4 linked regions of the Homo sapiens genome follow. The protein of the gene in region 4 binds, or shares a complex with, the protein of the main gene of each other region. Each region holds a gene or a part of one and is shown on either strand. Other genes may lie near its edges. The genes, in order: SMAD7, AMOT, SMAD3 and NEDD4L. A codon is read from its position in the direction of its gene.

What was found.
Region 1: the proteins of NEDD4L (region 4) and SMAD7 are in contact, whole or in part, in an NMR structure (PDB 2LTY), measured with the Homo sapiens proteins. Residues at the interface, in NP_001138439.1 of Homo sapiens: Arg394, Asp396, Lys398, Arg400, Tyr402, Val404, Asn405, His406, Arg409, Thr410, Thr411, Thr412, Trp413; in NP_005895.1 of Homo sapiens: Glu203 (codon at 1,970), Glu205 (codon at 1,964), Ser206 (codon at 587), Pro207 (codon at 584), Pro208 (codon at 581), Pro209 (codon at 578), Tyr211 (codon at 572), Ser212 (codon at 569), Arg213 (codon at 566), Tyr214 (codon at 563), Pro215 (codon at 560), Asp217 (codon at 554).
Region 2: the proteins of NEDD4L (region 4) and AMOT are in contact, whole or in part, in a crystal structure (PDB 7LP3), measured with the Homo sapiens proteins. Residues at the interface, in NP_001138439.1 of Homo sapiens: Lys202, Asp204, Leu206, Arg208, Tyr210, Val212, Asn213, His214, Arg217, Thr218, Thr219, Gln220, Trp221; in NP_001106962.1 of Homo sapiens: His235, Arg236, Gly237, Pro238, Pro239, Pro240, Glu241, Tyr242, Pro243, Phe244, Met247.
Region 3: the proteins of NEDD4L (region 4) and SMAD3 are in contact, whole or in part, in an NMR structure (PDB 2LB2), measured with the Homo sapiens proteins. Residues at the interface, in NP_001138439.1 of Homo sapiens: Glu392, Glu393, Arg394, Lys398, Gly399, Arg400, Tyr402, Val404, Asn405, His406, Arg409, Thr410, Thr411, Trp413; in NP_005893.1 of Homo sapiens: Glu178, Thr179, Pro180, Pro181, Pro182, Gly183, Tyr184, Leu185, Ser186, Glu187, Asp188.

What each region holds. Positions count from the first base shown.
Region 1 is NC_000018.10:48,947,849-48,956,278, forward strand, and holds the start of SMAD7 (mothers against decapentaplegic homolog 7), read right to left. Parts: upstream 3,118-8,430; 5' UTR 2,577-3,117; coding exon 1,964-2,576; intron 1,486-1,963; exon of another isoform or gene 1,381-1,485; intron 590-1,380; coding exon 536-589; intron 1-535. UniProt on the Homo sapiens protein: Antagonist of signaling by TGF-beta (transforming growth factor) type 1 receptor superfamily members; has been shown to inhibit TGF-beta (Transforming growth factor) and activin signaling by associating with their receptors thus preventing SMAD2 access.
Region 2 is NC_000023.11:112,837,134-112,845,958, forward strand, and holds the start of AMOT (angiomotin), read right to left. Parts: upstream 3,699-8,825; 5' UTR 3,319-3,698; exon of another isoform or gene 3,075-3,318; intron 2,818-3,074; exon of another isoform or gene 1-2,817.
Region 3 is NC_000015.10:67,068,602-67,075,601, reverse strand, and holds part of SMAD3 (mothers against decapentaplegic homolog 3), read right to left. Parts: intron 1-7,000. UniProt on the Homo sapiens protein: Receptor-regulated SMAD (R-SMAD) that is an intracellular signal transducer and transcriptional modulator activated by TGF-beta (transforming growth factor) and activin type 1 receptor kinases.
Region 4 is NC_000018.10:58,396,357-58,402,594, reverse strand, and holds the end of NEDD4L (E3 ubiquitin-protein ligase NEDD4-like), read right to left. Parts: 3' UTR 1,056-6,238; downstream 1-1,055. UniProt on the Homo sapiens protein: E3 ubiquitin-protein ligase that mediates the polyubiquitination of lysine and cysteine residues on target proteins and is thereby implicated in the regulation of various signaling pathways including autophagy, innate immunity or DNA repair.

The sequences.
Region 1 (8,430 bases), 9.4 Mb from region 4:
CGGGAGAGGACTGACTTGCAGGTGACTGGAGCAGGAGGAACCTACCCCCCCCCCCCTTTTACTGGCTGTTGCCTATACTTCTGAAAAGTTCTAGTGTCTACTCCAGACCAAAGTCTTCTTTGCACCTTTTTAAACCGTCTTCCCATCTATCGAATCACCCTTTCCATTATTCCCACTGATGCTCCTGGCACTCACTAAGTCTCCGAGTTATCCCCATCAACCAGTCCTATTTGGTTCCCAAGACACTTCTCTCTGGACTAAAGCTTCCACGTGTTAAAGCTGAGCCCACCGGCTACACAGCACAAATACATGAAAAAGGAACAAAATGTAAAGCATATCAAGGGAACGTCTTTGCAAAAACAGCAAAAAACCCAGCCACAACAGAAAAATTCACCAAACTTCCAACAGAGGAAACCTAGAACCAACGTGAAGCCCAGCACCTCCCCAAGCCTTTGCCTACACACAAAAAGCCACGTTCTAGAGGCTCTATTTCTAACTTAAGATAAGCAGGATATTTTAAAAATCATCTACTCACCAGTTGGTTTGAGAAAATCCATCGGGTATCTGGAGTAAGGAGGGGGGGGAGACTCTGAAATTAAAAAAGCAAGAGAAAATAAAGGCCCAGCCATGAGAAGAGAGATAGAAACTTATGATAACAGAGGCATTCTTTTAGCCCAACTGTTTGTCTTAGCTGTGGGGGTTGGAGGCAGGGCCGCGAGGCGGTGATTGCCTTGATATTTAGCTGTCAGATAAACAAAAGAGGCCGCCTGGCGCCAGCCTCGGCGCTCCGCTCCTCCACGTCTGCGGCCGCAGCCGCCGCGCTCGGCTGGCCCGGCTGGAAACCACCGGCTCGGCCGGAGCCGCGCACTTCACAGTTCACAGGGCGGGGGGCGACCATGCCCCCTCCCCGTCCTCGGACTCCAGACCCAGCTCCCAGCAACCTCGGCTCCCCGCCCCGGCCCGCCCCCCAGGCGTGCAATTCACCTCTGCCCCCGCCGGTCCGCTCGGCACTCGCGCGGGGGACACGGGGCTGCCCATTCCTAGCGCACTCGGGAGATGCATCCCAAGCGTGCTGGGGAACGTGGGGGATCTGCGGGCGCCCGGGGTGAACCCTCACATCACACTCTGTGTACAGAGACGTAGAGTAAAGGAAGGAATGGAGAAAGCTGAGAGGATAAAAGGAAAGGAGTTTCAGGGTCTCAGCCGAGAAGCCCAGGCCCCAGCGCAGTAAGAGGCGACAACGTCACTGAGGCGCCGGGGCCCCACTAATCTACAGACTTATCTGTGCGGAAGGAAGGAAAAAGTAGGGGACACCCAACTTCTCCTGCCTGTTTGTTCCTCTGCACCCTGGGGCTGGCAGAGTTGAAAGGAGACAGATACCCAGTTCGGCCTTCCATCCAACTCTCTTTGCCCCAAAACTCCAAAGGTGCGCGGCCACGACAGTATCTGGGCCACTGGTGTTCGACGTGATTCTCCGTATTTACTAAAGGAGTAAATACGGAGACCTTCCAGCCTTTATAGCACGCCTCTCCCAGCCTTCCTTGGCGGGCCTGGACCAAATCCAACTCGGCCACACACCTCAACGTCTTTCCGGGTGCGGGGAGGCGTGACCCCCCCACCTCCCTCTGCACCCCCTTGTTGATCCGGAAATGAAGGCGTCTAATTTTTAACCGCAGACTGCAGGAGCAGTGCCCGTAGACCCCTTCGGGGCAACACAGGAGAAAACCTGGAAGGGAACCCCCAGGGAATGCCCTTTGAGTTTCCCCTTGTCCCTTCTCTACTTTCAGCCCCCAGTCTCTTCCCAGGAGGGTATGCACACTCTCCCAGGAGGGTATGCACACTCTCCCAGGAGGGTATGCACACTCCCCCTGGAGGGATGGCTGCACAAACGCACTGCCCTAGGGGCTTTTCTTCCAGCACTGGCGCTCCGGAAAATGTTGGGGGTAGGGGGACAACTTCTCACCTAGTTCGCAGAGTCGGCTAAGGTGATGGGGGTTGCAGCACACCAGCTCGGGGTTGATCTTCCCGTAAGATTCACAGCAACACAGCCTCTTGACTTCCGAGGAATGCCTGAGATCCGGCCACCTGAACACTTTGCACAGCAGGAGGGGGAGCGAGTAGGACGAGGGCGGCTGCGCAGGCTGCGCGCCGGCGGGCGCCCCCGGGCCCAGCCTGCAGTCCAGGCGGCCGGGCAGCAGGAGGCACGCGGTGCGCGTCCCGCCGCGGGACTCCACGGCCTGGAGCAGCAGCTCCAGCTGCCGCTCCTTCAGTTTCTTGAGCACCGAGTGCGTGAGCGCCTTCAGATCCGCCTCGGCGCCCCCGGCCGCGCCGGCGCCCGCGGCTGGCGGGTGGGGATGGTGGTGACCTTTGGCACCTCGCACCGCCTTGCCCAGGCAGCATCCAGCCCTGCCCGGGCCGCCGCCACCGGCCCCATGCGCTCGGCTGTCCGTCGCCCCTTCTCCCCGCAGCTCGCCTCCTCCTCCACCTCCCCCTGCGCCCTCCTCCTCGTCCTCGCCGCCGGGCGCACGGCTCCTCCAGAGACGCCGGACGAGCGCAGATCGTTTGGTCCTGAACATGCGGGGCGAGGAGGCGAGGAGAAAAGTCGTTTGCCTGCTAAGGAGCGAACATGACCTCCGCACACCATGAAGAAGTCGGGCGCCGAGTTGGGGCAGCAGGCGCAGGCGACAGCAGCAGCAGCAGGGGCCCGGGCAGGAGCGGCGGCGGCCCGAGGGGCGCTCCGTGGCATGCGCCAGTCTCCCGGAGGCCGGGGCGCGCGCGGGGGCCCGGGGGCGCCCGCCGGGGATCGGGGGCCTGCGCTCCGGCTGCCCCACCCCGCGCGGCCCGCGCCCTGCGCGGCTCTCCGGCCCCGGCGCGCCCCGGAGGAACCCGGCCGCCGCTTCCCTGGGGACGGCCGAGCCTGCCCCCGTCGGCGCCTCCCCAAAAAGAGGCCCCCCCGCAGTGGCTCCCGAATGTCGGGCTCGCCAGCCTCGGCTTCCTACATGGAAGGTCCGCGGGGGCAAAAAACGAAAGGCGTTCGGCTGGGCTGTTGGAAGAAGGAAAAAGCCTCTTTCCCCCTTGCTAAGCAACTTAATTTGGGGGTGGGGAGAAGCAGGCAATTAAAAAAAAAAAAGCAAGCGATTTATTTTTTTCCTCTATATCCTTAGTAACCGGATCTCCTCGAATTCCGCGCACACGAAGACTCAGGGGAGGGGGCCGAGTGGACTTCACCCCGCATGAGACGTCTGGCAAAATAAGAAGGCTCTCGCAAAACCTAACAACCAAATATGCAAAGCCCCAAATGAAAACCACCACCTCCTCGAACCTCAGAGGTCTGGGGGCGTCCGGCTGGAACTGGGGTTTAAAAAAAGAAAATGTTTACAAAGTATAACAAGATGTTTGATGGGTGGAAAAATGTATCCACGAGTTACATCCCCCCGTTTCCTTGCAAAGCCCCGCTGGTCTTCCTCTCCTTTTCTTCTGCCAAAAAAAAAAAAAAAAATCGTGTATTTTTTTAATCCACAGAAAGCTTTGGCTAGACCGCTTCAATCCTGCGCATCTGGGTGGTTTAGGGGAGTCTCTGGTCTTTCCCCCTGCGCTCCTGGGGGCCCAGGTCCTCGGCGGGGACTTCCTCGAGGCTGGCGCGGGCGCAGGGGCAGAAGATGCTGCGGCGGCGGCTGAGCCCGGCGGGGCTGACAGCGCGGGGGAGGGTGGCGCGGCGGCGGCGGAGGGCCCCAGACGGGTCGCGCGTTCTCGCCCCCCCCGGGCACAAGCTGCTTGCTAGTGCAGGGGCCGCCGATGTCCCTTCCCCTGGCCGCGGCTGGCCGCCGAGGCTCCCCGCATGGGCTGCTCGCCTCGACCCAGCTGCGGCGGCAGGAGGCCCCGGTGTCCTCTCGGCGCCTCCTCCTCCGAGACTCTCCTCGTCGCGCCCGGGAGCCTCCTTGTCCCCGGTCCGCCCTCTCCTGGCGCTCCGGTCCTTCTGCCGCCGCCAGGGGCTCGCCGCGCCGCACTCAGGGGCTCAGGGGCCGGGCGCTCGGCGGCTCGGCGCCGACGGACTGGCTCTGTCTCGGGCAGCTCTCTCCCGCGCGGCGAGCGGACCGAGCACGGCGCCCGGCTGGCTCGGCTGGCGCGGCTCGGGGACAGGATCTTCCGTGCGCCGAGCAGCAAGCGAGTGTGCCCGGGGCTCACCGCCTCCCGCAAGGCCTCCCGCCCCCGCCCCCTTCCCTCCCCCTTCCTCCCCCTTCCCTCCCCCGCCCCCAGCCGCCGCAGCCGCGCCGCCTCCTCCCCGCCCCCCCGCACCCCCCCTCCGGCCCTCTGCTCGGCTGGTTCCACTGCGCAGTGGCGCGCCCGGCTCCGGCCTCGTCACGTGGCCGTCTAGACACCCTGTCGCTTTAAAAAAAAAAAAAAAGCGATTGTGTTTCGCAAACAACAGATCGGGTTTCTAAAAGCTATTTCTCCCCCCAACCCCCCGCCACCGCCACCCCCTCCCGGGTCTGTAGAGGGGGTACCGATGGAGGGGAGAGAGATAGGTGGGGGGCAGAGAAGCTCCCAGAATGGATTGAGCCCCGGCCGGAGCCATGGAGAAATTGGAAAAGCAGGGAGCACCGAGCGGGCTTCGCCGCGAGTTTTGGAGCTGAGCGAGCGGGTCGGTGGCCCGATTTCGACCCGGCTGGGTTTCGCGGTGGCCATCTCGCGCGCGCTCGCCCTAGCGCTTCATTCATTGGTTTTGTTTTAAAGGCCCTGGCGGTGGATCCCTTGGCCGCGCCCGAGGGCAAGGGGAGGAGAGCGCTGTCTCGGTTTAAAAGACATTTATACCGGACTGGACCGAGGCCCTGGGAAGTGTGCGCTGAGGGGAACAGCCGCCGAGGGCGGGGAGGCGGCGTGAATATGACCTCAGCGGCGGCCGCGCGCTCCCTCCCGCCCTCTCAGCTCCGGGCTCCGGTTTCTAGGACTGCCTGGAGAAGTGTGTCTTGTGCACAGCTCTGGAATGCATTTGGCCGGCTGACGAGCTGTGAGGGGCAGCATCCCGGCGGGAGAAGGGGAGCGGGGGTGGGGGCTCGCCTGCGCGCCGCGGGCAGGTTTCCTCCCGGGCCCGGAAGACCTCCGCCACCCGCCACCCTGCCTCCCGGCGCGGGAAGGTTACCCAGCGAGCAGACCTGCCTAGGGCATTCATTTGCATGCAGGCCCTGTTTCTGGGCCTCGTAGCTTTCAAGGTGCTTAGAGTCAGAGAGTTTATTCCTTGACCCCAGGTCCCGAAGAAACATATACCCAAGCTGGCGGGTTACTGCATAGAAACGGGCATGGCATTGCTAGGGCATAAACGCATTTACAGCGTGAAAGCTGATGGCTCCGAGAAACGTAATGATTTAAATACACACACATCAGTATTGATGAGGCCACTAGTTGGCATGGTGATCTAACCTCACTTCATATTCAGTGAAATACGATTTTTTTAAAAAGCCATTGAGAATTGTGAGATCAGGCCAGCAGTGAAACTCGTTGGGGGCTTTAAAGAATCTTTTTTTCTTTCTTTCTTTCTTTTTTTTTTTTTTTTTAGAGTCTCACTCTTCACCCGGGCTAGAGTCCAGTGGCTCGATTTCGGCTCACTGCAGCCTCTGCCTCCCCAGATCAAACGATTCTCCCACCTCAGCCTCCGGAGTAGCTGGGACTACAGGCGCGCGCCACCACATCTGGCTAATTTTTGTATTTTTTGGTAGTGACGCGGTTTAACCATGTTGGCCAGGCTGATGTGGAACTCCTGACCTCAAGTGATCTACCTGCCTCAGCCTCTCAAAGTACTGGGAGTACAGGCGTGAGCCACTGCACCTGGCCTTAAAATAATCTTTAGAAAAGGTGAAATGTGCCCAGGTGCGATGGCTCACGCTTGTAATCCCAGCACTTTGGGAGGCTGAGGCAGGTGGATCACCTGAGGTCAAGAGTTTGAGACCAGCCTGGCCAACATGGTGAAACCCGTCTCTACTAAAAATACAAAAATTAGCCAGGCGGGTGGCGCGCGCCAGTAATCCCAGCTGAGACAGGAGAATTGCTTGAACCCGGGAGACGGAGGTTGCAGTGAGCTGAGATCGCGCCACTGCACTCCATCCTGGGCAACAGAGTGAGACTCTGTCTCAAAAAAAGAAAAGAAAAAAAGAAAAGTAAAGATGAAATGTACATCTTGCCGGCTAAATTATATGTTCTTAAAAGGAAAAGGCAGGAATGAATCTTAGCCGCCTTTAGAGCTCAAGTCCTCTCCCCCTCTAGCAATTAAAAAGATTTCTAACATATTAGTACAATAGTAGATGCTTAATAAATATTTAGAAATCAACACTTAGGGCTTAAGGGGCATTTGGACCCTTCCTCCACCCCACCAAAAGTACCTTTGGTAATATAAATTCAAGAGGAAATCAGCAACATTGCTTACATGATCATTTCCAGGCAAGGAGATCCTAACACTTATTGACTTGGAAGATAGTAGGATGCCAAGCAGTGCAGAACCCTACTGGACGGACAGAAGCTGCCATTCTGAACATTTACTGTGTAAGGCCACATAAGCTGCAGTTGTATAACATCATAATTTTGTTGTAAATTAAAATATGGCTTGTATAAAAGGGCATTGAAACCTTGTGTGTGTATTAAAAAAACATTCTAAGAAGCAACCTGTGAAGACAGCAGCTGAGAAAGCACAGGAGAGAATGGAGAAGGAGTGTAATCCCAGCACTTTGGGAGGCCTATCATGATAGGCAAGGGAAGACGAAAGAGACAGAAGTGGGATTTTTTTTTTTTTTTTTTTTTTTGAGATGGAGCCTTGCTTTGTCACCCAGCCTAGAGGGCAGTGGCATGATCTCAGCTCACTGCAACCTCCGCCTCCTGGGTTCAAGCAATTCTCCTGCCTCAGCCTCCCTAGTAGCTGGAACTACACGTGCACTCCACACCTCGCTAATTTTTTTGTATTTTAGCAGAGACAAGGTTTCACCGTGTTGCCCAGGCTAGTCTCGAACTCCTGAGCTCAGGCGATCCACCCGCCTCAGCCTCCCAAAGTGTGGGATAACAGGCATGAGCCACAGCGCCCGGCCCAGAAATGGGATTTTTAAGGTGTCTGGGAAATGTATCATATTTTCACCTTAGAAAGGCTTAGAAAGAGTACCAGACTAGAGGTCAGAAAACCTGATTCCAGGCTGGGGCGTTGCCGCTCACTGGTTAAGCAACTAGGGCCAACAGCAATCCCCACGTTAGGCGAGCACTTGGCAGAGTTTATAAGATTTTCTGGGCAAGTTTCCGCTCTCTAGGGTCCCATTCCCTCTCTGTTCTGGATCTCCCTAAAAGATCTTCACTTATTGAGAGTGGTCAGACCAGGCTTCATAGCAACAGAAAGGACTTAAATAAGCAGAGAAAGTAGAGGTCATAATTCTAATTCAGTTTCTTGGCTAAATGGAGAATCTGAAGAATCTTTTGGAGATCTGGCCAGTAGTGCTAAGGCTCTGTAATGAGAGGCCGGAGCACACACAGGGCAGGTAGGTTTCATGGGTGTTTCAAGAGTGGAGTCTGACGTCACGGTTTGTCTGGGTGGAACATGCATGTACTTGCAGAGATATGTTCCCGTATAGTGTAATTGTAGGTGTATTAATTCAGGTGTCACCCCTCTCTACACGGCTTTCCTCTTCCATTTTGCTACCCTAGGTAGAAGCTGGGTGCGGTGCTGAGCAAGTAGCTACAATGATTGGTGCTGCTTTATAGCTCCCTGGCATCCCCTGAATCAGTTAACATCCCAGCTTTCCTGATAGCCCCACCCCATCACATTCTTATCCCTCTCCTCTCCAAGAAAGAAGCCAGAAGCCTGGCAGTAGAGGAATTCCCAGCAGGCTGGTGTGCCTAGAAAGGTAGTTTCTTTCTTTCCCTTCCACAGGCACAAAGGAGGCCAACAAACACGCAGTTTCAGACTATTCTGACCCTTAAGAAAAAAGTTTAAGAGTTCACCAAACTATTGTGAATGAGTTTGATTCTAATCATTTGCTGGCAGGGAATATGGAATAAAATAGCTCATTTGCAGTTGTTTATTTCCTGTTGTGGCTTCTATTTTCATCTTTTAGTCGCTTTGGTGATAGTAATCAAACCCTAATCATGGTGCCGCCACAAGTCACAGAGACCAAAATAACTTGCAGCAGAGTTATGACAAACAAGGATGGAATCAGCTAAAGACCTGGCTACTTAATCACCGGCCACTGCCGCCCAGAGGACTGTGGGGCTGCCTCTTGACCGGCTGCTGGCTAGGAATCTAGAGGAGAGAGGAAGTCGAGGGAAGTTGCTCCAAGGCCCATGTTTTCTGAGCAGCCAGGGAAGGCAGTAGAGTGCACAGGAAGTGACCGAAAAAGCAGGTGAATTCTCCACACCTGCCAAGGGGAGAGGCAGGCTTCTGGAGGGGCCTGACTTGAGAGA
Region 2 (8,825 bases), on a different chromosome or scaffold from region 4:
AATCTATAAAGTCTGATTTATTTTCAAAAAGTAATACTAGCTTTCTTCTGCAAGCAGTTGTAGGCCAGAGCTAACGTGGCCAGCATTATTACAAGCCAGAATGATTTAGACAATTAACTAACTCCATTCCATATAACAAAAAGATTTCAAAGGCCAAATAATGGCCTCACTTAATTTAAGCGATAATCATTACAAATTCTTATGTATTCCTTTATGCAATAAATATGCTTCCGAGAAGGCCCAGTTAGAGTGAATTTTTATATATCAAGTCATAGTTTAAAGGCACTAACTAGGAAAGCTAGTACTTACAAAGAAAACCTGTTGTGGATTCTTTTATAAAGCAAATGACCTCCTATTTTCTTTCTTTCTTTTTCTTTTTCTTTTTTTTTGTTCAGATTGTGTGTGTTGTGTGTGGAAGGGGCGACTTCCCTCCTTTCTCTGGGTTAAAAGGGGTCAGAAGCCCACCATGGAGGAGAGTAATGCAGTATGGCCAGCCTGTTTAATACCCCCTTAGTTCCTGGGACAAAATTCTAACCTTTGACTTGGGGGTGGAACCCTAGAATTTGGACCAAAGTCCACAAAAGGCAGCAAGGAGGGAAAAGTAAGTAAGACTAAAGACAACACATCATAGTAAAACACCAACAAAAATTCCTGGGGACAGGAAATCAATGGATCACAATTCTAAACAAATTGGTTTAGTCCCCAGCTAATTAACTTGTCAAGCAGATCACTAAACCTACTGAATCCATGGGAGAAAGAGATGATGTAATAGGAGATTTGGAAACATTTACCCATTTACCATCCTAAAAGGCTCCAGTACGACCACACACACCTCTCCCCACCCCTTTCAGTGTTTAAGCTGGGCTTAATGGGTGCAAAGGACAATTTCTACCAGACAGTCCCCAAGAATAGACTGTTCTCATGCATTCCAAATGCTCAGTCTCCATGGAGGAGGCTACCTGGTCACAAGCATTTCCCAAGAGGGAATATATCCTCTATTCCTCCTCATTGGTAACAACTCCCCCACTCCACCCCCACGCCCCAAACAAAACAAAACAACTTCTAACCATCCTGAGAACTTCAGGGGACTTTTCTGGGGTAAAGGAAAAGAAGCGTTAAGAGGGGAACAGGAAAGTGTGAGAAACCCCTCTTGTCTCCAAATGGAAAAAAAGGCCTTAAAAAGCTGGATCAAAGGAAGAAAGGGGGATGGGGAAGAAGGGCCGCTTAATTACAAAGACACCCTTTTAAAGAAGGCGCAGGCCCTGGGAGAGGGCTCTTGGGAGAGGCACAGAAGCAGATGTACCCACTTAGAATTCTGGCACTCAATGGGACCTCAAGGTCATAGTATCCATCCCCCTGCCTTCTGATTAGGCTATTCTTAAAGCATTCTAGAGTCTGATGCAGTCTTTACAAAACCTCAGAAAGAAAAAGCAACTCTACAAATGTCCTTGTTGGGAATTAGTCTAATAAATCAAACTTCATAAACCAGAAATGAAATTTTAATTTCCAAATCCAAAACTGCATTGACTATGAATTATTAAAATTCCCTTTCTAAAATCTTTTAAATAGGTAAACAGATCCACAAATTTCATGTAAAAGTGACTCCACATACAATTGTGGTCAGAGGTTTACTTCACATCTAGACTGTGAAGGTAGAAAAAGCACTTACAATTTTACAAAGCCACGAACTTTTCCAAGGAAAGAAGTAATTTAAAATGAAGTATGATGTAGTGCCAGAAAGTGTCTGTCAATGACGCCGGATAAACCCATACAGAATAGTTGGAACCTTAGTTATCATCTGTAAATAGAGGCAACTACTCTACAACCACCTGGCTGTTAAAATGTCCCAGGCCAGTTATAAAATGTAGTTTGGTCAGGCCAGCTTTTCCCTCCCAGCTGATCTGAAACAGGATAGCCTTTAAAATTGTCGCCCTTCTCTACCTTCCTACTTTCCTTTCACTCATTAAAATCAACCAAAGTTATTTTAAAATGTATGTTAATAATGTGTTCCCAAATAAGCAATGGGTTAAGGACATCTCAGTAATAAGTCTTTGAACACCATCACTTACAGGCTTGACGCACTTGTCCAATTGAAGATAGGTGGGAGATGGATGAAAATGTATACCACATCCAAAATGGCATTTCAAACTATTCTTAGCTACTAAATGAGGGTGCTGAAAGGTCTAACTGAGAAGGCTTCACAAAGGCTGGCCTGAGAAAGAACTTTTCACAAAGCCTAGCTCAAGGAGACTTAAATATCCTTAGCCCTTCATCATTGAAGATTATGGTGACTAATTATCTTCTTCTCTGAATGGGAGAAGAGGGTTATATTCATAAAAGTTTTAAACTGCCTCCCAACGTCCACTCTTCATGGCGGGGAGGGAGGAGAACTTCATGCACTAAACATCCCAGGTTGTTGAAAAGTTCGTTCTAAAACATACACTAGAGATTGAAAATGCTGTTTCTCACCAACTTTCTCTTTCCTTGCTCATTTAATTCTACTTAGTCCCTTTATGCAAATTATTATATTATTATTAGTGGCAATCTACCAGGAACTGCTCACAGTCTATTAAAGACTGTTATTTTCCCTCCCCCTTTTCTTTCTCTTCATTTTCACAAACCCATGAAGCCCATCTTACTGTTGAAGCACCAATGTGCAGTGGCCCAGGCTTGGACCCTCAAGACACCCTCAAGATCCCCCAAAACTATTTACTAACATCTTTGGATCTTCTAAAGCAGATAGGGGCAACTCCCTCCTCACCACCACTATCACTACCACCACAAGCACTACCACCACCACCACACATCTCAAAGAGTAGCCTTGTTTTAGATTACACAGACTTTAAAACTTCAAGAATTCACGGTCCTACCCCTCCTGCTCCCGCCTCAGGGAGTGTGAGTCCCCACCCCAAGCCTAAGCACTTAGCAGAAACCTATCTAGTTATCTGAGATAAGCACTGACATGCATGCTGGGCTAAATGTAGATTTCAGCTTCCCTCGGGTCTTTAGCTCCTCAATGTGATTAATTACCTAGAGACCCACAAGAACCCCAGGAGGTAAAGAAGTAAAAGTACCATCTAGTAGTGGTACCCACTAGCATCTCCTCACCGAAGTAGGACGGGAAAGCAGCGCACACTCTAACCGATTTAACTTGCTGCACATCCAAAAAAACTCATGGCGAGCTGCAAAGAAAGTAGAACACACGGGCATTCCCACACGCGCCTAGATCGATTCACTCACGCCGAGGGCACGACCAAGTTCATGCCACCATGGATTCCTGCCCCAGTTCCCCGCGAAAAGTAACCACGCGTCTCCTACCCCTGAAGGCAAAGAAGACAAGGTGACGACTCTCTGCTCGCTCAAGTGGCTTCGGTCCCGGGCCAGCGGCCAGGGATGGGCAGGGGGGAAGCCCCAACTCCCGGCTGCTCCCCTCCTCGCTGCTCCGTCCGGGCTCTCCTTGGTGGCAGCGGACAGGCAGGATACCGGGCCAGAGGGTGGAGCAGCGGATAGCCGGAGGCGAGACTGACTGGAGGTGGTGGTAGTTGAGGGGGAGGCGGAGAGAACTAAGAGAAGAGGAGGCGAAAGAGAGCGGAGATGGAGGAGTAATTCAGGGGGTCTACCAGTTTAGGCAGCCAGAAAGCTCCTCGGAAGGAAGGGGCGTGACTGCCAAGGCAGCTCCTGGGCAAAGGATGGGAGGTAGGGGAGGGGGACGAACGGGTGGCTTTTCTTCTTGCGGTGAGCGGCTAGGACCGCCCCGGAGCAGGGCGGCGGGAGGGGTGGACGAGGGAGGAAGGCGGAGTAGAGGGCGGGGAAAGAAGGGCGGGAGCCTGCCTGGACCCTGGAAGTGAGGAGTGAGGGGAGCGCGGAAGAGAGGCGGGGCCGGGGGGCGTGGAAGTTTCAAACAATTGAACCGCGGGGTCCGGGAGCTCGGGCGAAAGCAAGGGACCCTCGCTCTCGCCTTCCCACTAGAGGGGCACGACTCGGTTGCCGTAGCCGTGAGAGTCTGCGCGGGGACTGGCTGGGAAGAAGGAAAGGGTTTTGCAAAAGACTACAATAATAATCTGCGGCAACAGCGCGGCATAGACGCGTGGGAGAGCCAGTGCAGCTCCCCGCCCCACTGCGGGAGGAAGAAAAACAAATAATAGAAATGCTGAAAAGCAGCTTCCACCAAAGCCTGCTTAAAATAATGCAGGAAGGAGAAGCGCTCCTTCGTTTTCCTTCCCCTCTTGCTTCCTATTACCAGCAGGCCCCCACCCAGGTCACAGCTCTGCGAGACACCCTCCTTTCTTCCTCCGCTCCCCCGCCCCGGGCGCTTGCCCCCCTCCCGTTGGCGGGCCGCAGAAGCTGAGGGGCGAGGGAGGAGGGGTCGCGGGCGGCGCTCCGCGGAGGCTCCGCCCCTGGGCGGGCTGGGAGCGCCGGCCTGGGCGGAGCGCGTCCCTGAAGCGTAAGTCCCGCCCACCATTCTTTTGCAGCTACCGGTTGGCCCAGCCTGGCCTAGTATACGCTTGCGATTGGGCCCTGGAGTCGCCAGTCTGATCCCTTTGTCCCACCCGCCCTCAAAATTAATAAAACTAAACAAGAGGCTATTGTGTAGTTCTATGTTCTACCCCAGCTACTGCTGGCAAGAGAAAGATGAGACGCTTTATTTCTCAGTCTCATAAAAGAGTGCAACAGTGTGTCGGCCGACTCTGGTACGCCTTTATGTTTATGGCACTGTCCAGCTTTCTGCGAATAGGTAACTTTTCTTCCCCCTTAGTTTATTAAATCAGGAGGGGGGAAAGTACATGAAGTGTCATTGTGGTGTTCTGCTGACTGTGAAAAAAGCTGACATTGGTTAAAAACGAGAGGGTTGAGAACAGCATCCTGGGACACGGAAAATCTACCATTTTACATCTAGAAAAACGAAGGCACAAAGAAACAGTGTCAGGGTAGCAAAATAACATGGAATTTGGAACCAAAGGAAGAATTCATTTGGGGCCCTGGCACTTACTAGCTAATTGTATGACTTCTGTTAAGTGGCTTAACTTCTCAGCCTTAATTTTTCTACCTGTAAGTAAATGCTGTAAGACATGCCCTATTAACTTAAAGGCACTGGTATGAAAATAAAATGTGTGTGAAAACTATAAAGCACTCCACACATGTATGTGTTCCTACTTGTGTGTGAAACATAATGGAGAGTCTTAGATGTGTTAGAGGATCAATATTTTGCTCATCTGTTTTAAGCATTTACATCCAAGGTCGTGTAGGTTTTGTGGCTTTATTTTAAAAAGTCAACTCTTTTCCTACAATTTTGGGGGTGGATATGAAGTTGACTCCCTGCAGTTAGAATAATAAATTACCCCTTTTCTAAGCAGGGTGGGTGAGATTTCTTTTTTAAAGTTCTACAATTTCATGACAACTTAAAGCTATTGTGGTTCTGGTACTGAAAGAGGAAATCATGCTGTGTATCTCCGAAGTGAACTTAAGAAAACAAATATGAAGGAACATTTACCATGGAAACCACCATTCTCTACAGATCCATATTTCCTAGAAAACATTTCAAGTAGGAAGCAAGCCTAAATGTAAACGCCTTGACAGCGCAAGGCCATTATAATGGCTCATGCCAATGAAAGAGTGACATCCAATTCAAGCCTGCCTAATGGGAGCCATCTGGGGGGCCATGGATCAAGGCATGCAAGAGGAAGTGTGCTTAAAGGAAACACTATCACACAGTAAACAGGGGCTCAGAATCCAACTCTGCAGGAAAAGTAGTGGACTATTGCATGTCATGGAGTGTGCAGCATGCTCTGCTAGGAGCTGTGGAAAGATTCAGAAGCAGGAGTGTGCACAAAATGATTCTCGTTATGATTCTGTTTATGTATGAAGTGAGGTTATTTGGGTGATTTTTCATGGAGAAAGTGAGTTTTTGAATGTTCAAAATATGGAGACACCTGGTTTGTGAAGCAAGGAAAGGTTATTTCAGCCTTGTTATTTGGAGTGGACAGGAGAGCTAGATGTGGGGGGGCGGGTATATGCTGCAGGACTACTACCAATCACAGAGGCAAAAGGATATTTGTTAAAATCAATGCTGTCCAAGTGAAAAAAGTTAAACATGCACATGGAAGAATTCAGATAAAACGGTACTGGGCTGGGCACGGTGGCTCACACCTGTAATCCCAGCACTTTGGGAGGCTGAGGCGGGTGGATCACTTGAGATCAGGTGTTCAAGACCAGCCTGATCAATATGGTGAAACCCCTTCTCTACTAAAAATACAAAAATTAGCTGCACGTGGTGGCATGCGCCTGTAGTAGCAGGTACTCGGGAGGCTGAGACAGGATAATTACTTGAACCTGGGAGGCGGAGGTTGCAGTGAGCTGAGATCAGCCACTGAGCTCCAGCTACTCGGGAGGCTGAGACAGGATAATTACTTGAACCTGGGAGGCGGAGGTTGCAGTGAGCTGAGATCGGCCACTGCGCTCCAGCCTGGGTGACAGAGCGAGACTCCGTCAAAAAAAAACCAAAAAACACCAAACAAAAAGGTACTGAAAGACTACAGTGAAAAGTTCTTCTCCACCACTCTGCTCCCATAGTCCCATTCTCTTTATGACTGTATGTCATCTTCCAAATAGATTATTTGCATATTCAAGCATGAGTGCATATTCCCTTTTTGTTCCTTACAAGTGGGATCATTAATCAAGGCACACCTTGCATTTGTTTACTCAACAATGTATTTGAAATATTCTTCCATCTCAGGATAACTATGTTTACCTTATTTATTTTATTATAACTCAATATTCTATTGCATAGCTGTGCCAAAATTCCTTTACTCATCCCCTTATTAAATGGGGATTTGGGAGACAGACACGGTGGTGGCACACGCCTATAGTTCCAACTACTAGGGAGGTTGAGGGAGGAGAATCCCTTGAGGCCAGGAGTTCAAGGTCAGCCTGGTCAACATAGCAAGACTCTATCTCTAAAAAAAATGGAAGCAAATTTGGGCTATTTCCCATCTTTTGCTACTACGGAAGATGCTATTTAAAAAAATCCTGGTAACAAAGGCCTGGTGGCTCATTTGTAGTATGCCTGCCCCTAGCCTTGAAGTTGCCTTCAAAACACTTTTCTAACATGCTTTCCTTTCCCCACAGCGACTTATACTGTGGAGCAATGGAATTGGAGCAATGGAAACCTCTAAAACACTTAATTCGTTTAACATCCGCTCCTCAAACCCTGCTTGGGCATTACTCTTCTCCAAATTTTGATGGAGTAGAGTTAGCAGAACTCTGAACTTAATGGTGAGTCAGGCTGTGTGTGAGTCATTTCTTAACCTGTGGCAAACAGCTTTTTGGTACTTCTGTTTAACCCAGGTCTTCCAAGCCTTCTATCCTGCCATGCAAGACTTCTTTGTTTTCACCCTGAAAACCTTTCAGTTTGTTTAAACCGAGTTTGGATTTAAAGCTGTGCATTGCCTGCACTACTTAAAAGAGAGGGGGAGGGGGAGGCCAACATCAACAAACATCGATTGAGCCGCTATTATAGACAAGACTGAAAAAACAAAGAGGCATGAGACTTAGCTCCTGCCTTCAAGGATATAAACATAAAAAGACAACTAACAAGCATGTGCTAAGTGCCAAATGAATGGTATTGACAGTAAAAGCTGTGGAAGTTAAGAGCAGAGAGTGAAAACTAGTTCCAGAGAGTTAGTTTATACAGCACACTGTGCCACACACATTTAACTAATCCCCACAGCATCCCTGTGTCTTCATATCCTGACTATAAAGTATAGAAAGCCCTCTGGGGGAGACCAGGAGAATTAACCACTAGCTGTAAAACACCTGTGTAAAGACACTGGGTTGCCTAGATACTACACATTAAAAACCTCCATATAACGATATGGAAAAAAGGAGGATCATTTTAAGCTCAGAAGTCAAGATTCCACATCCCAAACTACCTGTCCTATTTGGCCTTTATTTTTTTTTCTTAAAATACACCTTTATTGCACAATAAAAATCAATATCTGTGCTGTACAAAATAAAATCCATTAAAAAAATCAAATGTCTACCTTGAAAACATTACACAAAATGAAATAAGCCAGATACAAAAGGACAAATATTGTATGATTCCACTTACATGAGGGATCTAGAATGGATAAATTCATAGAGATAGAAAGTAGAGTAGTGGTGATCAGGGGCTGGAGGAAGAGGGAGTGGGAAGTTAGTGTTTAATAGTACAATTTCTGTTTGGGATGATGAAAAGGTTTGGAACTAGATAATGGTGATAGTTGTATAATATTTTGAATGTACTTAAAGCCACTGAATTGTACACTTAAAAATTGTTAAAATGGTAAATTTTGTTACGTATCTCTTACCACACACACACACACACACACAAACACACATGCACACACACAAAAGCTAATAACCCTTAGGCTTAGTGTCAGGAGACAATGCCAGTGATAGGGGTTGCAAGAAGGCAGAACCCATGTGAAAGGGGCAGCCTGATCACCACTACAGGGAAATGCAGGCCAATGTGACCACAGCTTCTGATTTTTCAAGAGAAACCAGAAGTCAAATGTTTTTAATATAAAATCTCCAGTGTTTCATGTTGCCAACTAATAAATGTCTTAATTAAAAAATCTTCCCTTTGTGTGCAATATTTTTGTCCAACGTACAGGAAAAGTAGGAAGGAGTGTATAGCTTATGGTCTATTCCCAATCCCTGGCCAGATTCTTCTTGAAGGAAAGATGATAAAACCATAGTGCTTTGCATTGAATGGCATTCTCCCCCACTTACCAAGTGAACCAGGAATATGGAATGTGCACATCTTCCTCTAGTTGCCTAGTGAACAA
Region 3 (7,000 bases), on a different chromosome or scaffold from region 4:
TCATCCTCATTTTACAGATGCAGAAACTGGGGCTCAATAAGTTGAAGCAAAGTACCCAAGGTCACCACATAGCTAATAACTGTCAGACTCAAACCCAAACCCATCAGACTTGAGAGGCTTTGCTCTTTCTGCCCAACTGTGCTCTTCCTGTCCTCCCCCTCTCCTGCTCCCCAGGTAATATGTGAAGAACCTGTCTGGGTAGAGACAAACAGCCACACACAAAATGTAAAGGGTTGGCACAACAAGCAGTAATTCACTCTGCCTTCCCATGGGCTGGGAGAAATTAGACCCACCTTGAGTCTGACTTCAATAAGGGTAAGAAAAAGTTTACAACCAGGAAGATTTGAAGCAAAAGGAAAAACCCAATTTCCATCACCAGTGCCTGCTTTCAGCCACTTGTAACTACTCAAAAAGTCCTTTCTGGATTCATTACTCCACATTTGGGCTTAGCCCAGAGGTGATTTTTTAAGGAAAAAATGCCTTTTGGCATTTTTGAGCAGTGACAGCGTAAAAACAGACCTTTAAAAAACACACACCCAAAAAGCATTACTATTTTCAAATGTCCAGTTGAAAAGAAAAAAAAAATGGTGACACCTCAGAGTTACAACTTGGCTTGGCAGTTTGTGATGCAACACTTAGCAGCAAAAGGGACCAGATTCATAACTCTGTAGGTTTCAAAGGCAAAGCCATACACAGTGTTTCTTAATACTGGAGTCCTACCCCATCTCTACTAAAAATACAAAAATTAGCTGGGCATGGTGGCGGGCGCCTGTAGTCCCAGCTACATGGGAGGCTGAGGCAGGAGAACTGCTTGAACCTGGGAGGCGGAGGTTGCAGTGAGCTGAGATCACGCCACTGCACTCCAGCCTGGGCGACACAGCAAGACTCCGTCTCAAAAAACAAAAAAAGAGAGAGACAGAGATAAAGAAACAAACAAACAATACAATACAATACTGGAGTCCTAAACTACCGGCAAAGCACTCAAGAGAAAAACTTGCCAGATGTAAGCTGGGAGAGCCATGTGATACTGAAAAAGAACTATTTAGGAGGAAACTCACTTTTCATTTCCTAGTTGGGGTTTAAACTTGCAACATCCACGCTGCCTAACAAAAGGCTCATGCTTACGCAATCAAGTGCAGCCTTTCTTTATATAGATGCTTGGAAATAAATAAAGGAAGCTTCCTGGGTAAACTTTGACATATGAGCAAACATTTTCCACAGGTATCCTCTATAATGCCTACCTCTTACATTTAACCATTTTTAGGCATCTGTGGTCATTAGTTTAAGTAAACTTCCTGTTCTTAGAATAGTCAAAAATAGCAACAAAAGAAGAAAAACTGTTCACTGCATCTCAAGAGGCACAGCCTCCACATCTTCATCCTAGCATTATTTTCATATTCCTTTGTAGTTAAATTTCACTGATTTAGACTCACAGAGTAAGGAAGAGGCAAGGAAGAGGGAGGGAAATCACCAAAATTAAAGGCTGAATTACAATTTTATTATTTTTACTTATGTAAATTAATTGACACCAGGCTGATAGAGTCTTGGAACATCAATAATTAAGAAAGATCTGTCATTCACTGATCAACTAGATGCGTGCAACTGGGAGCTTTTAAAATGTTTGTATGTGGCCGGGCGCGGTGGCTCAGGCCTGGAATCCCAGCACTTTGGGAGGCCGAGGCGGGCAGATCACTTGAGGCCAGGAGTTGGAGACCAGCCTGGCCAACATGGCGAAACTGGTCTCTGATAAAAATACAAAATTAGCCGGGTGTGGTGGCACATGCCTGTAATCCCAGCTACTCAGAAGGCTGAGGCAGGACAATCACTTGAACCTGGGAAGCGGAGGTTGCAGTGAGGCAAGACCGCGCCATTGCACTTTAGCCTGGGCAACAAGAGCGAAACTCCATCTCAAAAAATAAAATAAAATAAAATAAAATGCTTGTATGAATACCAATTCCAAGTTAGAAAGGCCCTCCAATAGAGTTTATCTAGCCTATTTTCCAGTTGAGAACATTCGAGGCCCAAAGAAGGTGACTTGTCCCAGGTCACACAGCTAATCAGAAACAGAGCCACGTCTAGAACCTACCAAGGTCTGCTGACTCCTACCTCCAAAATAATCCCCAAACTCTTGTTTATTAATTTTTCTTTGACAGCATTTATGGGGCAAAAAGGCCTGCTAAACAAACTTTTGCCTAGTCCAGAATTAGCCAAACTTCTTAATTAATAGGCTTCTACTGTGTTTTCATTTTAAACTGAGTCTCTGCCAAAACATTCTACAGCAGTTGCCACTGTGGCAGGCTGCTGTTTATAGGAAGGGTCTTAGATAACCAACAGTGGATAGTATGCTATAGATTTGTTTATTTCTCAAACTGTTAAGTCGAAACAAAGGATTATGTTATACAGAGAGAAAGAGAAAGAGAGAGAGAGATCCTTGTCAAGTCAATAAACTGCAGAGCTTGGGGGATGTGGTTTGGCACCAAAAAAACAGTATTTACAAATTAGCTAAAGAGTGAACACATACAGCATTCTTACAACTCCAAAGAACCTGTGTTTCACAGCCAGTGGACTAGAAGCTACAGAAGGCACCAGGGACAGTATCTGCCTTATTCACTATTTTGTCCGCATTATCTGGCACAGAAATTAGCACCTGGTACGGCATTAAAGGAAGGCATAAAAATGAACTGGACAAGTTCTCTTGGAATTGTCTCGGTTCTAAAGCTTAGAACACAGTAAAATTAGAAACCAAACTTCTGTAGGGTGGGCTTAGGATGGCAACTTCCCACTGTTTCCAGGAACCATTGTGCTTGAAGATGGGAAGACTGAAGGCTCCATGGCTCAGGGACTTGTCAGAGGCCAACAGAAGGTCATACCCCTCCTTAGGGAGGAGTTAGTCCCATCCAACACTGCACCAGCCATTCACGTCTGCACATGGCTGGTGAACTTCCACCCCCTGCACATTCAGCAGGCTGCCATCATGAGCAGCCTTCTTGGGCAGTTCTCTTGCCAGCCAACCAACACTATGAGATGGGGATTTGGGGGAGGGAATGGAGTCTTTAAGTTTTGCTTTTGTTTTAATCAGTCAATATGGCAAAGGAGAAAAGGGCAAAAGTCAATTAGGACTATTGATGAGACTTGCTGATTAAGAAAACTGCATTCCAATCTTAGAGAACTTAATTGCAATTACAGGAAGCTGAAGGAGAGGTGAATAAAGGTGGGAGAATAAGGTTAACAGGAATGAAAGCTGATTCCAATTTGAAGCAAGCCCTGCTTGGTCTTATTTATTTCATTAAGGAGCTCACGCAGAATAATGGCTGTACTGTGCATCAAATGGCATTAAAATCTCCTAATAAATTAACAAGTAAAAATTAATGGTCGCTCAGTTCATTAAATCGTGTTAATTTTATTCCATTATAATAATACAGCAATCACATGTTTACATTATTAAACCAATATTTATTTTTTAACTCATTTAGTTGGATTCCTGATGTGATAAGCTTGAAACAAATTCTTTCAATTTCATCAACTTCTTGCATTTCTCATCAGAATTAAATGCGACTGTATTCATATTTTTCTGTTATTAAAATTGTCATTTAAAACTTCACCCTTGCAAAGACTTTTTAAAAAATATACCACTAAAAGCACCTATGTTCATTCAGAAACTCAGGCGTCTAGGATTTATTCTCAGCAAGTGTTAACTAGAGAAATGAGAAGCTAGGTCACACCGAAGCTTTGAATTTCAAAACAACCATCTGCAAGTTGTCCACTTTTCATTTATTTATTTATTTATTTTGAGACAGAGTCTCGCTCTGTCGCCCAGGCTGGAGTGCAGTGGCGCGATCTCGGCTCACTGCAAGCTCCGCCTCCTGGGTTCACGCCATTCTCTTGCCTCAGCCTCCCGAGTAGCTGGGACTACAGGCGCCTGCCACCAAGCTCGGCTAATTTTTTTGTATTTTTAGTAGAGACAGGGTTTCACCGTGTTAGCCAGAATGGTTGTGATCTCCTGACCTCGTGATCCGCCTGCCTCGGCCTCCCAAAGTGCTTGGGATTACAGGTGTGAGCCACCGTGCCCAGCCAAGTTGTCCACTTTTTATTAACACTCCCTGTCATATTCTGAGCTGATACATCTAAAGTCCCTGTTCCCACCAAGGAAACCTGAATTTCAGTTTGCAGTACTAACTTACTTTTTACTTCAAAGAGAAAATGCTTTACAGTGGAGTAAAATATAGCACCCAAGTCACTAGCTGTTCAGTGCCAGTTACAAGGTAACATATTTATAGCAGCACTCAGTTTAGTAAAAGAGGATAAAGACGTCCTCATTCTTATAGGGAACTATCCCCATGTACCAAAAAGTTCCCAACATCATACTGCAGTCCAAAAAGCTTCCTTTGGATAACCCTTGTCCCCTTCTTAGTTTTCCACCTCTCATGGGTTCTCCTCCTCTCTACACCTCCTCCCACAGAATTAACTGTGTTTCCACATTGCTGGGCACTTAGCACATTCCTCAGCTGCAGCTCATGCCTCATACCTTTGGGCAAGTCTGTCTCCCGCTCTAGACAGGGAGCTCTTTGAGTACAGGGACCCTGCTGTGGTCATTGTAGTATGTTCTCAACGAAGGACTGAATAATTCAATAATGAATGAATGATGCAGAATGAAGTATAAACGTAACATACCTGTCAAATTCTCTGGTTCACAAAACACTTCCACAGAACTTATCTCATCCTGACTTGACAGGTGCAGATATAAAAGCTGTGAAACTTAAATGGATTCCCAAATCCTTGCAGGTGGTAAAATGGCAGGTACAGGACCTGAATTTTGTGTTTTTTTCAGAAAAAAACAGATGCCTGTCATTATTTTATTTCCTAACATAGTGAATTCTACAATATTTAAAAGGCACATCAACGCCCGCCCCCATCAAAAATCATCCATACTAGATCTCATATTTCTACTGGTAGCTGGGAATGAGAAAGAGATAGCAGTTAGATACTCAAATAATGCCCTATTCATGTTTCCCTTACTGATGTGTAAGCTTCTCACAGGCTGGGAGCTTCTCAAACGTGTCTCTGCATCCTCCTCTGGTACCTAAAAAATTGACTCAGACATGGGAGGGTCCAATAAATATCAATAAATCAACAAAATCCAGCCCTGTAACAACAGAGGGGCTGTCTGCAAACATTCCACTCCCAGGTGCAAGCAGCATGTTCCAAGGTTCTAAATGTTCCCAGGGAACGTCAAGTGGCGCCTAGGTTCAGCTGCAGCTGAGTCAGATCCCTCATCAGCTACCTATTGTCCTGCAGGCACCTCCTCTTCTCAGGCCCTACGTGGAACTCCCCTAATCAAACTTAACAAGAGCAAAGAGATAATGGACCACCTCCCTAGCAGCTGGAAGGGGGCTTGCTTCCAATGGGCCACACGGGCATGGTGCTCTGAAGTGCAGCCAAGAGAAAAGGGAGGCCTCTACAGCCTTAGTAATAGGTCTATCCCCAGAAATCTGGAAAAGGCATGTTAAAGACTAGGATCTTTTTCCTTTCTCAAAGTGAGAGTACCCTGGCAAAAGTCAAGGAGATAATAAGAGGAGGCTACAGTAAAAGATCAGATTCGGTGAGGCGCGGTGGCTCACGCCTGTAATCCCAGCACTTTGGCAGGCCAAGGCGGGCAGATCACAAGGTCAGGAGTTCAACACCAGCCTGACCAACATGGTGAAACCCCGTCTCTACTAAAAATACAAAAATTAGCTGGGCGTGGTGGCGGGCGCCTGTAATCCCAGCTACTCGGGAGGCTGAGGCACAAGAATCGCTTGAACCGGGAGGCAGAGGTTGCAGTGAGCTAAGATCATGCCACTGCGCTCCAGCCTGGGCAACAAGGCAAGACTCTGTCTCCAAAAAAAAAACATCAGATTCACAGGGAGGGAGTAGATGCTGTGTGTCAGACCTAGTGTTTGCTTCAATTCTCCAATTTTCCACTGGACTGGGTGCTCTGACACAAGAAAGCCCAAATTCCCTTCCAAACAAGCAATGCTTTAAGCTTGGTCTAGCTCCCAACAACGAGGCCAAGGCATGGATTCCCTGGTGGAAGTACAAGCTACCAGTGTCTACCAGAAAACTAAGTTTTAAGTGTGCCGAGCTCCTTATTCCTCATATAACGCTCACACACCAACTCTCATTCAGCGGCAAATGCTTTGATTCCATTCTTATAAACTGGCAAGGAAGATACCTGCAGCTTTACTCAGGTACTCAAGCAGGTGAGGCATGAGAGGCTGTTATAAAACTTGTGTAAATTCTGCCAATCCTGCCAGACCTCAGAGTATCCTGACAGCCCCTTTGTTGGTGTATCTAAATGAAGCTCTTACCACTTCCTTGGCACCAATCTCTTTCACCTTCTTTATGTCGATAAGTGTGTATCACGCCAGCTCCCCTGATAATTGAAACAAGTCAGAGCTGGTGTCACAGAGAAGCAAGCCTGTGGTCTGGAAGTCCCTAGTATACAGCTCTAATTGCCAAATGTTGCTGTTGCTGCTCATGATTATATATTAGCCAAAACACACTTGGCTTAATCTCCTTAGACTGAGGGCTCCTTAAACCCCGGAGTCCAGATCTTGCAGAGTGTTTTTAAGCACCCAGTGACCAACCCCCCACACACAGGGGGAATGACTAAGTTAAACATTTTCCTTTCTCTACTTTCCAAACTAAAAGGCAGTTGTGGTGAAAGCAGACAATTTGACAAGCAACACTGCAATCTATGGGGCTTAGCAGACACATTGATATCACCAGCACAGGGCCAAACCAGCCACCTCCCCAAGACGTGGCCTTTAGTTTTCTGCCCACGACCAAAACAGCAGCAGCTGTTGCCAAGGGACACAAGGTGACCCAGAGGCGTGGGCACAAAATCCAAGGATGAAAATCCATTTTGTCTGGATCCACCCAAGCAACTGGGTTTCCCTAACTGAAAAAAAAGATGAAAAAAAAAATCTACTTTTGTATTCAGTCCTATCCAGGCAGGCAG
Region 4 (6,238 bases):
AGAAAGAACATATAAATATTCACAGTGACTCTGTCCAATTGTGCCTCTCATGTGTACTCATAACCCTGGAGGAGGCGGCAGGAATTCCAAGTGCTGCGGACAGCTTTCTGGCAAGATGCCATCTACTGTTAATGGAAAAAGACAAGCCGCAAGAAACCAAAGACTAAATGATGTCCTGCTTCCCCGCTAGCTATCTCCTCTGCCCCGAGGGGATGGGTTAAGCACATCAAGAGGAAGCTCAGTACTAAAGAAAAAGGGAAAATTCTCCAGGAGTCTGAGATGATCTGAGCGGAATGAAATGGCATGAGGAAAAATGCCACCGGCTTTGCACAGGGCAGTGACACACGGTCGGGATTCTGACAGCACCTTTCTGAGAAGCAACTTGGGGATTCATTATTGAGTCTTATTAACTCTCACACAAGTTGAGGGCTAGGTATACAAGGATGCCTTTTGAGGAACAGACTAACATGGATTATACAAATGTTACGTAAAATCAGTAATTCTCAAGTTTAATAAAAGAACAAAACAGCAGACGGATAAGAATAAATGTGCATCCTTTTAGTAGGCTTAAGCCATGTGTTTTGGGCAGACTTTTTTTTTTTTTTTGAAACGGAATCTCGCTCTGTCACCCAGGCTGGAGTGCATGCAATGGCACAATCTCAGCTCACTGAAACCTCTGCCTCCCGGGTTCAAGCGATTCTCCTGCCTCAGCCTCCTGAGTAGCTGGCATTACAGGCATGCGCCACCACGTCTGGCTAATATATATATATATTTTTTGTATTTTTAGTAGAGATGGGGTTTCACCATGTTGGTCAGGCTGGTCTTGAATGCCTAACCTCAGTGATCTGCCCACCTCAGCCTCCCAAAGTGCTGGGATTACAGGCGTGAGCCACTGTGCCCTGCCAGACTTTAATGTTTTTAAAAGTGCGGCGCTTTTAGGGAGATGAAGGAAATGAACATACTATAAATCTGCAGGCATTTAAACCCCTCTGACAACAATTAAGATGGTGCATTCACAAAGAAGCTTTAAATCAAACAACCCATAACACTTGATGTAGAAAATGTTCCAGCTTCCATAATTCTTTATTAAATATTTGACAAGTTGCATCGCTTCTTTACAATGACTTCATTTTGTCACATTAGTCTTTTGCTGTCAGGAAAACAATCTACAGTTTCTCTTTAGATCTCTCAAGAAAAAAGAAAAGCGAAAGGATTGTTCTTCAAGAAAACTTCCTGTGTGTATCAAATTCAACCATATTTTAAAGCTATTCTGACTGTGAAAATGAGCATTATTCATAAGTTGCCTTAAAAAAATTCAAGGTAGTTTGGTTTTTACCACTGTATCAAATAGTACTTGGCTTCCTATTAGGAGGTGGGTTTATAATAAAAAGTTATGAAACATTGATAATTTATTTGGAATGCTTGAAACTCTTTTCACCTTAAAAGTCACTGTTTTTTTCATGTTTCATTTGATGATAGATCCTGAATTAGGAAATGACAGCAAATTAACATCATCTTCCTAGGGTTTTCTTAGGCTCCAAGGGTTGAAATTCACAGGACACAGCTTGGAGAAAACTGCAGAAGGGACTAAACTCTCACCTCCTTTCGAAACCAGATTACTCAATAAAGGTGTAAAAATGCTATACAAATATATACAAATATATTTGGACAGCATATGTACGTATATATGTATATATATTACATACAGAGTAGTAAAGGAAGAACAAAGTCACGCAAAGTTAACATGAAGGAAACCGTGACAATCTAGGTGAAATCAGTCTGAGTAAAAGGGGAAAACTGGCTTACACGGGAACACATATCTGCAGACACAGAGTTATGGTCACGAGGAAGGCTTCTGATGATGCACTGGTACGGGGTTGAGAATGCAGTGCACGCGAGGTTAGGCGCCAACAGCAATGCTACTCCTTACACACAGAAAACCAACGAACGGAAAGACGTGCCTTTGAAACATGCGTTGCTTTCAGTGGAACATCTTTAACAAACAACAGATGTTTAATGAGGTTTGCTTGGAAAATTTCATGCCAACAGGAAGCTAACCCTTTTCTAGAAAACGTTCTCCAAGCTCCCGTCCTAATGCTGTGGCACTTTCTCTGACATACTGAGAACACTCTGGGGTGGGGGTGTGTGTATGCAAATGTATAGACACTGTTCATTAAGGCTTATATAAATTAAAAAAGTGGTCCAAAGAATATCACATTTTTCCCCAGTTTTAAAATCTAAAGTACAAAGTGGAGTTTATAAGGATTTGTTTTTTAAAAACACATCTCAGTCCTGAAATTGGCAGTTCTGACACGACTTATCAGGATGTACCCCAATGCCTGAATGACAGAGGTAGTGATCTTCGGGGTCAGGGGAGGTCAGGAAGGGAGCAGGCGGGCAGTTACCCTGCACAGCGGCACCCTCTACTGGCGAGGCAGCAAATGATACCAGACAGCACCTCCCACCTCTCCCTCTTAAGTACAGGGGTGCAGGGCCAGGGTAAGGAGGAGACAGAAGAAGGAGAACTAGCACAGTGTCACGTAGGGGCTGCAGAACTGATTAACCCAGGCTCTCTTTATACGTTTTTAAATTTCAGAGGTGAGTACAAGACTCTCAGAAATACAGGAGTCGACTGTTAATGGGTAACTGTTAGAATAATTAAAAAGTTGCTGTGTATGAACCTGGCTTTCGGGAGGACCAGTGTGGATCTGGCAAGATAGCAGCGGTGCACACTCTCTATGCAACAATGGGAGATGTAGAAAATGGTTCAAATGTTTTGCATGCTGTTTCTCAGAATCTGTCACTGTGAGGCCGGGTGCGGTGGCTCATGCTTGTAATCCCAGCACTTTGGAAGGCTGAGGCGGGAGGATCACCTGAGGTCAGGAGTTCAAGACCAGCCTGGCCAGCATGGTGAAACCATCTCTACTAAAAATACAAAAATTAGCCAGGCGTGGTGGTGGGTGCCTGTAATCCCAACTATTCGGGGAGGCTGAGGCAGAAGAATCGCTTGAAGCCAGGAGGCAGAGGTTGTGGTGAGCTGAGATTGAGCCACTGCACTCCAGCCTGAGCTACAGAGCAAGACTCTGTCTCAGAAATAACAATAATAATCTGTCCCTTTGTCCTTACATGGGAGAAATAATACATGCCAAGTCGCTCTGTATCCCTCATTGTCTGAATTTAGGGAATATCTGATGTCACCTTCTGAAGGGTCCTGGAAACAAAAACCAAGTGTCTTACCTTTGTTCTTGAGATTTGTTAGAGGACTGGCTGCAGAGAAGCATAAACATTTCAGGCAAAAAGGAAAAGAGCACTGAAGCTGGGAATACACCGCAACACAGACAATGAATGCCTCACTGCTGCCGGCTCCAGGGCCAGCAGTGGAGAGGCACAGGCTGTTGGACCTTCATCCCACCAGGTGCTCTTTCCACATCCTTCCTCGGGCCAACAAGGGGCAGGAATGGAAATACCCGGGACCCACAGGCAGCTGTGATAACTGATGTTAAGAGAACCGCAACAGGCAGTGTGTGAGCTCCGGCACGTACTTCTCAGCCTCATGTAAGTGGCCCATAATAACTACAGCTTCAGCAGACAACTAAAGAGACTGCATTAAGGTGATTTCTCTGGCTATAAAGAGAGCCCGGCCTGCAGAGCAGTGTGACTGCTGGGACCTCTGGGATAGGCAACACTGCCCTCTCTCCCCCAGGGCTACTCCCCGGGCAGGTCGGGGCCCAAGGAATGACCCAGCAACTGCTCCTTACCCAGCACACTCTCTTTACTGCCACCTGCAATTATGCTGTGAAGATGACTGGGTGTGGTCATCACGATTCAGAGAAATCAAGATCTATGACCATTTTAGGCAAAGAGAGAAACTTGGAGAATTGCTGAGGACTACTGAACCTTGTTTTGCTTTTTTAAAAAATACTAAATCCTCACTTCAGCATATTTAGTTGTCATTAAAATTAAGCTGATATTATTAAGGGGTTGATGAACTGAGGTGTCACTCACAATTACTGCCTTCCAAGTATTCATGGGGTAGATTTCAGTAATTCTTGTTTGCTTCTGGCTTAGAAATTGTCAGAATGATTTTTCTTTTATACTTTCCAATACTTGACTTAATATGCATTTAGTGACATTCTGTTTTTTTCAATATACGGTTTACAAGATGACAGAAGAATCCCAGTTCTTAGGTTAGAATTGGATTTCTCCCTCTACAATTACACAATTACTCTCAAAAACCAAGAAAGCATACTGCTCGACTCAGGCTCTGGCATGATTCTTAAAAAGAAAACTGCCTCTAGACTATGGGGGCTTACAAAAAGGGGATTTTTGCCACTGAGACATTTGTCATGTTAACTGTAGCGGAAAACATCTCACCAATAGTCAAAACTCATGAGCGGGAATTTTTTTTTTTTTTTTTTTTTTTTTTTTTTTTTTTTTAGTTACATAGCATCTAAGTTTTCTGATCACTACCAGGTAATTTTCAACCAATAAGAAAAAGGAACCAACACTCAGCTCTGTAGAAATCTACCTTCTTTTAGAAACCTCAGGCCTCTGCACCCCTTTAGACAACTCATTTACAACCACAACCTTCCATGGCTTCTCACATGCCAGCCAGGGCAGGGTAAAAACGGCAATTTCTTACACCGAAAGGTCCTTTTTATGTAACAAACAGACCTCCCCAAACCACAACTTTTTTGTCCTATTGATGACTCGCATGAGATCAAATCTCTAGTGTCCCCTGACTGCCCCGACAGGGTCTAGGACAACACAGGTTAAAAAGGACAGCAGGGTCGTTCAACTCCCACACTGCCTCAGGTGTTTTCTCAAAGCACGACAATTCTGCAATGGAGACTTACACGTGGAAAAGAATCAAACTGTGCAGGTACCCTCAGTCCTCTGCCACTACCAGCTCAATAGCTTGAGCTCAGAGGATCAAGTCAAGTCTCTGTCTCACTTTTAATCTAGCACACAAGAGGCACAACTCAGGCAGTACACGGTATTGAAGCATGCAACAGGTCATTGGTAACAAAACTCAGTTAGATTAAGAGTACATTAAATAAATCTTTGTAGTTGAGTAGAAATCACAAAACAGTTGGTGAGGACAGGTCTGTAGGCTCAGCTTTACATCCAGGTTTTTATACACCAGCAGCCAGATTCACAATTGATAGATATTGCACCGGAAAGATGTGTGCAGGGAAAAGAAATCATCATCACATTTAATGTTCATGATAAAAAAATAAAAACAAAACCAGATATGACCTCCATGTAGTACATAAAGTGCCTTCAGAATTGGTGCATTTACAACAAAAACTGGTTATTTAGCTACCATTAGCAAACGCATACAAACAGGAGACTAAACAGATCTGGTTTCCACAGTTTTGAATCAAGCAGTGCCAAGTTTCATTCAAAATGTCTCTACTACAAACAGCAAAGAGGAAATAGAATAAAAGATGACTGTACAGCGCCAGGAAGGGTTAAGTAATTTCTCGGATGAGAAATGGGAGTCCAACCCTGTCTCAAATGTGTTAGAACACATGTAATTACTTCTAAGGAATAATGGTGTGATTCCTTTCAAGTCAACACAAAATTTGTCATGCTATGTTACAATTCTCTCAGCCTGTAGCTATTAGCTAAATTTGTACAAAAAAACCCCAAAACAAAAACGTAATATCCAGTTTTTCATTCTGAGTATGGAAAAAATTATCATTATGTCTAATATTATATTGGAAATTCTCTCAAAGTACTTGTCTGTAGGTTTTTGGACAAAAATTTGCCTTCCAATTCTAATAAAGTAGAGGGTGGAGGTGTCAGAGTACTTCAAAAATAAAAATGTCATTGACATTAAGCCTGGTATGAAAGTGAAATACAAAAAAAAAAAAAATGCTCACTTTTCCAAGTACATGAGACATCTTTAATCATAACGAAATAAAATCTGAAAATCGGTCTAAATCATTTTAAAAAGTAAACATGAGTCGTAATACTATACCTGTTGAGTGATTAATTCCATTCATTGTCATTAGAAAGGATGTAAAATATTTATTAAGGGCTTTGCCTGCAGAGGCACAACATAAATAGCATTAAGTCCTCCTGAAATGTAATTAGTGTACACATCAACCAGTTGATAATTTGTGGTGGGAAAGGCAGGAACTCAAGCTGGGACCAGGTTCCCGCATCCGAACTTGGACGAGTGCGTGGTGAAGGCTCGGCTCCAGGGACCATGCCTGCAGCTGCTCTCTGC